Linked DNA regions of Homo sapiens. The protein of the gene in region 1 interacts with the protein of each later gene in a pairwise test. Each region holds a gene or a part of one and is shown in the gene's direction. Other genes may lie near its edges.

What was found. The genes of interacting proteins can lie anywhere in the genome.
Region 2: the proteins of RHOBTB2 (region 1) and PPM1D interact in a two-hybrid assay, tested with the Homo sapiens proteins (one large-scale study listed by BioGRID and IntAct).

What each region holds. Positions count from the first base shown.
Region 1 is NC_000008.11:23,006,048-23,009,547, forward strand, and holds part of RHOBTB2 (rho-related BTB domain-containing protein 2), read left to right. Parts: coding exon 1-98; intron 99-680; coding exon 681-1,699; intron 1,700-1,945; coding exon 1,946-2,064; intron 2,065-3,500. UniProt on the Homo sapiens protein: Regulator of cell proliferation and apoptosis. It likely functions as a substrate-adapter that recruits key substrates, e.g. MSI2, to CUL3-based ubiquitin ligase complexes for degradation. Required for MSI2 ubiquitination and degradation.
Region 2 is NC_000017.11:60,662,693-60,666,192, forward strand, and holds part of PPM1D (protein phosphatase 1D), read left to right. Parts: intron 1-302; coding exon 303-860; 3' UTR 861-3,500. UniProt on the Homo sapiens protein: Involved in the negative regulation of p53 expression. Required for the relief of p53-dependent checkpoint mediated cell cycle arrest.

The sequences.
Region 1 (3,500 bases):
TTCTGCCCCCGAGCACCTGTCATCTTGGTGGGCTGCCAGTTGGACCTGCGCTACGCTGACCTGGAGGCTGTCAACAGGGCTAGGCGACCCTTGGCTAGGTAGGAGGTGCTGGTACCAAGGAGACAGACATGGATGGGTGCCTCACCATGGCTCCCTGCTCAGCCCTGGGGGAATTCCACTGAGCCTCATATCTCTCCCTCCATTTGGAGCAAGCTTGCATTGGGAGTCAACAAGCATGCTCATTCATTCATTCATTCATATACCTGTTGCACACCTCTGGTGTGGGCAGTGCTATGTAAAGCATCATGAAGAAAAATAGAGAGGAAGAGGTGATATTTGCATGAAAAAGTCCTATAATTTTGCTGAGGGATAAACTAAATATGTGAGCATGTTAAATACCCATGTGAAGCATTGCCTGCTAATTGCCAGAGAGGCAGTGCTGTCACGGCTTTGTACTGGGGAGGTCACTGGGGCCTGGCATAGTAGGGAAAGCTTTCTGGAAGAAAAAGGGCTTGGAGTGGACCTTGAAGGAGCTTGATGGGATTTGGCCAGACAGAGCAGGGCAGGAGTGGGTGGGGATTGGCACCCAGATCCTGAGCAGAGTCCCTCCAGCCTGTGGAAGAACAGGCAGCCTCCCTCCACCACCAACACAAGCTTGGTTTCCTTCTTGAACCTACCAGGCCCATCAAACCTAATGAAATCCTGCCCCCAGAGAAGGGTCGGGAGGTGGCCAAGGAGCTGGGCATCCCCTACTATGAGACCAGCGTGGTGGCCCAGTTCGGCATCAAGGACGTCTTTGACAACGCCATCCGAGCTGCACTCATCTCCCGCCGCCACCTGCAGTTCTGGAAGTCCCACCTCCGCAATGTGCAGCGGCCTCTGCTGCAGGCACCCTTCCTACCCCCCAAGCCACCGCCCCCGATCATCGTGGTGCCCGACCCTCCCTCCAGCAGCGAGGAGTGCCCCGCCCACCTCCTGGAGGACCCGCTCTGCGCGGACGTCATCCTGGTGCTGCAGGAGCGGGTGCGCATCTTTGCCCACAAGATCTACCTCTCCACCTCTTCCTCCAAGTTCTATGACCTGTTCCTCATGGACCTGAGTGAGGGGGAGCTGGGGGGCCCCTCGGAGCCAGGGGGCACCCACCCAGAGGACCACCAGGGCCACTCTGATCAACACCACCACCATCACCACCACCACCATGGGCGAGACTTCCTGCTCCGAGCAGCCAGCTTTGACGTGTGCGAGAGCGTGGATGAGGCTGGGGGCTCCGGTCCTGCTGGCCTCCGTGCTTCCACCAGCGACGGGATCTTACGGGGCAACGGAACAGGGTACCTACCGGGCAGGGGTCGTGTGCTGTCTTCCTGGAGCCGAGCTTTTGTGAGCATCCAGGAAGAGATGGCAGAAGATCCTCTCACCTACAAATCCCGGCTGATGGTGGTGGTGAAGATGGACAGTTCCATCCAGCCGGGGCCCTTCCGGGCTGTCCTCAAGTACCTGTACACGGGGGAGCTAGATGAGAACGAGCGTGACCTCATGCACATTGCCCACATTGCTGAGCTGCTCGAGGTCTTTGATCTGCGCATGATGGTGGCCAACATTCTCAACAATGAGGCCTTCATGAACCAGGAGATCACCAAGGCCTTCCACGTCCGCCGGACCAACCGGGTTAAGGAGTGCTTGGCAAAAGGCACCTTCTCAGGTATGGAACAGGCTTGGAAAGCAAGGGGGTTCTGCATTGGTGCTATTAGCATTGCCTGTCTGTCTCAGCTCCTGGTGTCCTGGAGCTGCGGCTGCCATGCTCTTGAAGCCTGGTTTTCCCCAGCTGGGAGCGGGTTTGTTCCGTGCCCCGAATCTTCTGGGTTCAGGAGGAGGCTCCGTGGCTCCCCTTGGGGCTTGTTCTCCCAGCTTCTTTCACCAGTCCTCCTGTGATGCTTCTTCTGGACAGATGTGACCTTCATCCTGGATGATGGCACCATCAGCGCCCACAAGCCCCTGTTGATTTCCAGCTGTGACTGGATGGCTGCCATGTTTGGGGGGCCATTTGTGGAGAGCTCCACCCGGGAGGTAAGGCTGAGGACACAAAGGGGGGAAGGAGGGAGTGAGACATTTGCACCCTTTACATCTGAGGCACTGCCACTCAGGGTACTTTCTTCACTGACTGTGTGCTAACCACAGGGTGATGGGCCCAAGAGAGGTTTATGAGGTGGTTCTTGGAGCTAAGGATTATACAATACACCAGGAAAGGGAATTACACTGACACCTCAACTTGAGAGTTTAGAAAGCACTTTCTGTTCATTATCTCATTAAATTCACACGCAACGTACACATGTGCCACTCCTGCCGTATATCTAGGAAAGGGAGCCCCTGAGAAGTTAAGTGACTTGTATGAAGTTGGAAGTAGAGTTAGGACTTGAACTCAGGACTTCCATTCCTTGGCTCTTTACTTTGTACCTTACTGCCTCCCTGACACACTTGAAACAACTGAATGCATCACTGTTTTAAAAGATAGGTTTTATTATTATTGAGGTGTAGAGAGGCCCACAGATTGCAAGATGGCTGTCATTGATAAGACAACTTGTTACAGATCCCAAGAAAAGGGGGCATGCCACAGCACCATGGCTGGGGTCACATGGGGAAGCTCTGGGGTCAATCAGGAGGCAGAGGGTTTCTGTGGGAGGGAATGGGCGAGGCAGGTTGAGCAGGTTTAGGATTAGCTGTTTGAATAATGTTAGCCGGCTCTGGGGCCTGGATGCTGTCTCTAGTTGTCTGTCACCTGGCTCTAGGGGGATTAGGGCAGGGGAACAGTGGCCTGGAGTGTGAGGGCCCATAGGGGAGGTAGTGGGCTGTGGGCTCTGGATTGGTTGGTTTGCATATGAAAGGCACACTTGCAGGCAACTCCTTCACTATCCCTAGGACTTGGCCAGCCCTGAGGGAGGCAGTCCCTATAGGGCCAGCAAGGCTTTAGTTGTCAAAGCAACAAAATACAGAAAATAGGTGTAGGGGGTGGCTTACACCTGTAATCCCAGCACTTTGAGGGGCTGAGGTGGGAGGATTGCCTGAGCCCAGGAGTTTGAGACCTGCCTGGGAAACACAGACACCATCTCTACAGAAAAAAAGAAAAAAAGAGAGAGAGAGAGAAAAGAAGGAAGGGAGGGAGGGAGGGAGGAAGGGAAGGAAAAGCATACTTAATAGAACCACCTGCCTCTCTAATCAGTGACCCTCTAGCTCTCACGATGCCACCACTTTCTCACTCACCTAGATTGGAAACTTAGGGTTGGAAGAAGCCTATCAATGTGTCCTTAGAAATATTCTCTTAGGTTTGGTCTCTTTTCCATTCCAAGCAGAGTAGCCTGGGCAGTAGCCCTTGGTGTGCTCTGAACTCCTGGACCTCAATTGCCCATCACTGAGTGTCGTCGAACCTTGTAGTTAACGAGGTTCGACTTTGTGCAGGCGCGTGGAGTTCTGAACGTCCACACCGTTTCCCCTACTGTTCTGTAACT
Region 2 (3,500 bases), on another chromosome or scaffold:
GGATAGAAAATGCTTGTGACCACGTGAATTTTCACCCACTTGAATAGATTACTTTATAATTTCATCTATTACCCTGAAGACAGAATTCAATGTCATTCTTACCTTTATATTGTCTTCTCACTCAGGTTCCTCCCATTAAACCTTAACACATAGTTCAGTAAATAGAAGGTGAACGAATTAGTGAATGCATACCCCGTTTTTGCCATCCTACTAGCTTCATAAGAAGCCTAATATCACATGCATAGATTTGTTGAGTTCTGGGATAAATTTTTTCTTATTTGTTTTACCTTCTTATTTTTCAGTCACTGGAGGAGGATCCATGGCCAAGGGTGAATTCTAAGGACCATATACCTGCCCTGGTTCGTAGCAATGCCTTCTCAGAGAATTTTTTAGAGGTTTCAGCTGAGATAGCTCGAGAGAATGTCCAAGGTGTAGTCATACCCTCAAAAGATCCAGAACCACTTGAAGAAAATTGCGCTAAAGCCCTGACTTTAAGGATACATGATTCTTTGAATAATAGCCTTCCAATTGGCCTTGTGCCTACTAATTCAACAAACACTGTCATGGACCAAAAAAATTTGAAGATGTCAACTCCTGGCCAAATGAAAGCCCAAGAAATTGAAAGAACCCCTCCAACAAACTTTAAAAGGACATTAGAAGAGTCCAATTCTGGCCCCCTGATGAAGAAGCATAGACGAAATGGCTTAAGTCGAAGTAGTGGTGCTCAGCCTGCAAGTCTCCCCACAACCTCACAGCGAAAGAACTCTGTTAAACTCACCATGCGACGCAGACTTAGGGGCCAGAAGAAAATTGGAAATCCTTTACTTCATCAACACAGGAAAACTGTTTGTGTTTGCTGAAATGCATCTGGGAAATGAGGTTTTTCCAAACTTAGGATATAAGAGGGCTTTTTAAATTTGGTGCCGATGTTGAACTTTTTTTAAGGGGAGAAAATTAAAAGAAATATACAGTTTGACTTTTTGGAATTCAGCAGTTTTATCCTGGCCTTGTACTTGCTTGTATTGTAAATGTGGATTTTGTAGATGTTAGGGTATAAGTTGCTGTAAAATTTGTGTAAATTTGTATCCACACAAATTCAGTCTCTGAATACACAGTATTCAGAGTCTCTGATACACAGTAATTGTGACAATAGGGCTAAATGTTTAAAGAAATCAAAAGAATCTATTAGATTTTAGAAAAACATTTAAACTTTTTAAAATACTTATTAAAAAATTTGTATAAGCCACTTGTCTTGAAAACTGTGCAACTTTTTAAAGTAAATTATTAAGCAGACTGGAAAAGTGATGTATTTTCATAGTGACCTGTGTTTCACTTAATGTTTCTTAGAGCCAAGTGTCTTTTAAACATTATTTTTTATTTCTGATTTCATAATTCAGAACTAAATTTTTCATAGAAGTGTTGAGCCATGCTACAGTTAGTCTTGTCCCAATTAAAATACTATGCAGTATCTCTTACATCAGTAGCATTTTTCTAAAACCTTAGTCATCAGATATGCTTACTAAATCTTCAGCATAGAAGGAAGTGTGTTTGCCTAAAACAATCTAAAACAATTCCCTTCTTTTTCATCCCAGACCAATGGCATTATTAGGTCTTAAAGTAGTTACTCCCTTCTCGTGTTTGCTTAAAATATGTGAAGTTTTCCTTGCTATTTCAATAACAGATGGTGCTGCTAATTCCCAACATTTCTTAAATTATTTTATATCATACAGTTTTCATTGATTATATGGGTATATATTCATCTAATAAATCAGTGAACTGTTCCTCATGTTGCTGAATTTGTAGTTGTTGGTTTATTTTAATGGTATGTACAAGTTGAGTATCCCTTATCCAAAATGCTTGGGACCAGAAGTGTTTCAGATTTTTTAAAATTTTGGAATATTTGCTTTATACTGAGCTTTTGAGTGTTCCCAATCTGAAATTCAAAATGCTCTAATGAGCATTTCCTTTGAGCATCATGCCTGCTCTGAAAAAGTTTCTGATTCTGGAGCATTTTGGATTTTGGATTTTCAGATTAGGGATGCTTAACCTGGATTAACATTCTGTTGTGCCATGATCATGCTTTACAGTGAGTGTATTTTATTTATTTATTATTTTGTTTGTTTGTTTGAGATGGAGTCTCACTCTGTCATCCAGGCTAGAGTGCAGTGGCGTGATCTCGGCTGACTGCAACCTCTGCCTCCCGGGTTCAAGTGATTCTCCTGCCTCAATCTCTCTCCCCAGAAGCTGGGATTACAGGTGTGTGCCACCACACCCGGCTAATTTTTTTTTTTTTTTTTGAGATGGAGTCTAGCTCTGTCATCCAGGCTGGAGTGCAGTGGTGTGATCTCGGCTCCCTGCAACCTCTGCCTTCTGGGTTCCTGCGATTCTCCTGCCTCAGCCTCCTGAGTAGCTGAGATTACAGGCACGCGCCACTGTGCCCAGCCAATTTTTGTATTTTTAGTAGAGATGGGGTTTCACATGTCAGTCATGCTGGTCTTGATCTCCTGACCTCGTGATCCACCCGCCTCGACCTCCCAAAGTACTGGGATTACAGGCGTGAGCCACCGCATCCGGCCTGAGTTTTATGCTTTCAATGTATTTCTTACATTTCAGTTCAAGTGATTTTCATGTCTCAGCCTCCTGAGTAGCTGGAACTACAGGTGCGTGCCACCATGCCTGGCTAAGTTTTGTATTTTTAGTAGAGATGGGTTTTCATCATGTTGGCCAAGATGGTCTTGATCTCTTGACCTCATGATCCACCAGCCTAGGCCTCCCAAAGTGCTGGGATTACAGGTGTGAGCCACCGTGCCCAGCCAACTATGCCATTATTTAACCATGTCCACACATTCTGGTTATTTTCAATATTTTGCAGAAGATAATTCTTGATCGGTGTGTCTTATGCCACAAGGATTAAAATATGTATTCATTGCTACAAAACAATATCTCGAAATTTAGCAGTTTAAAACAACAAATATTATCTCCAGTTTCTGAGCCTCAGAAATCTGAGAGTGGTTTAGCTGGGTGATAGTCTCGTGGTTTTGGTCAAGCTACCAACCAGGGCTACAATCTTTCGAAGGTGTCATTGGGGCTAGAAGATCTGCTTCCCGCAAGACTCACAGCTGTTGGCAGGAGACCTCAGTTTGTTGCCACATGTTCCCCTCCAGAGGGCCTCTCACAACATGGCAGTTATTTGTCCCCAGAGCAAGCAACACCGGAGGGCAAGGAAGAAGCCATGATGTTTTTTGTAACCTAGCCTCTGAAAGTGTCATACCAATTCTGTATTTTGTTGGTCACACAGACCAAGTCAACTACAACGTGGGAGACTCCTACACAAGGCATGAATTCTAGGAGGTGGGCATTTTTAAGTGTCATCTGGAAGGAGGCTGTCACAACCTGGAAGTTAAAAGCATTGATATTCTGAAATACAGCGTGTATAACATTGTTTTAGTAGGGTGTGCAATAGTTATGTTTTGGTAATAGCATTAATGAACAATGTTATT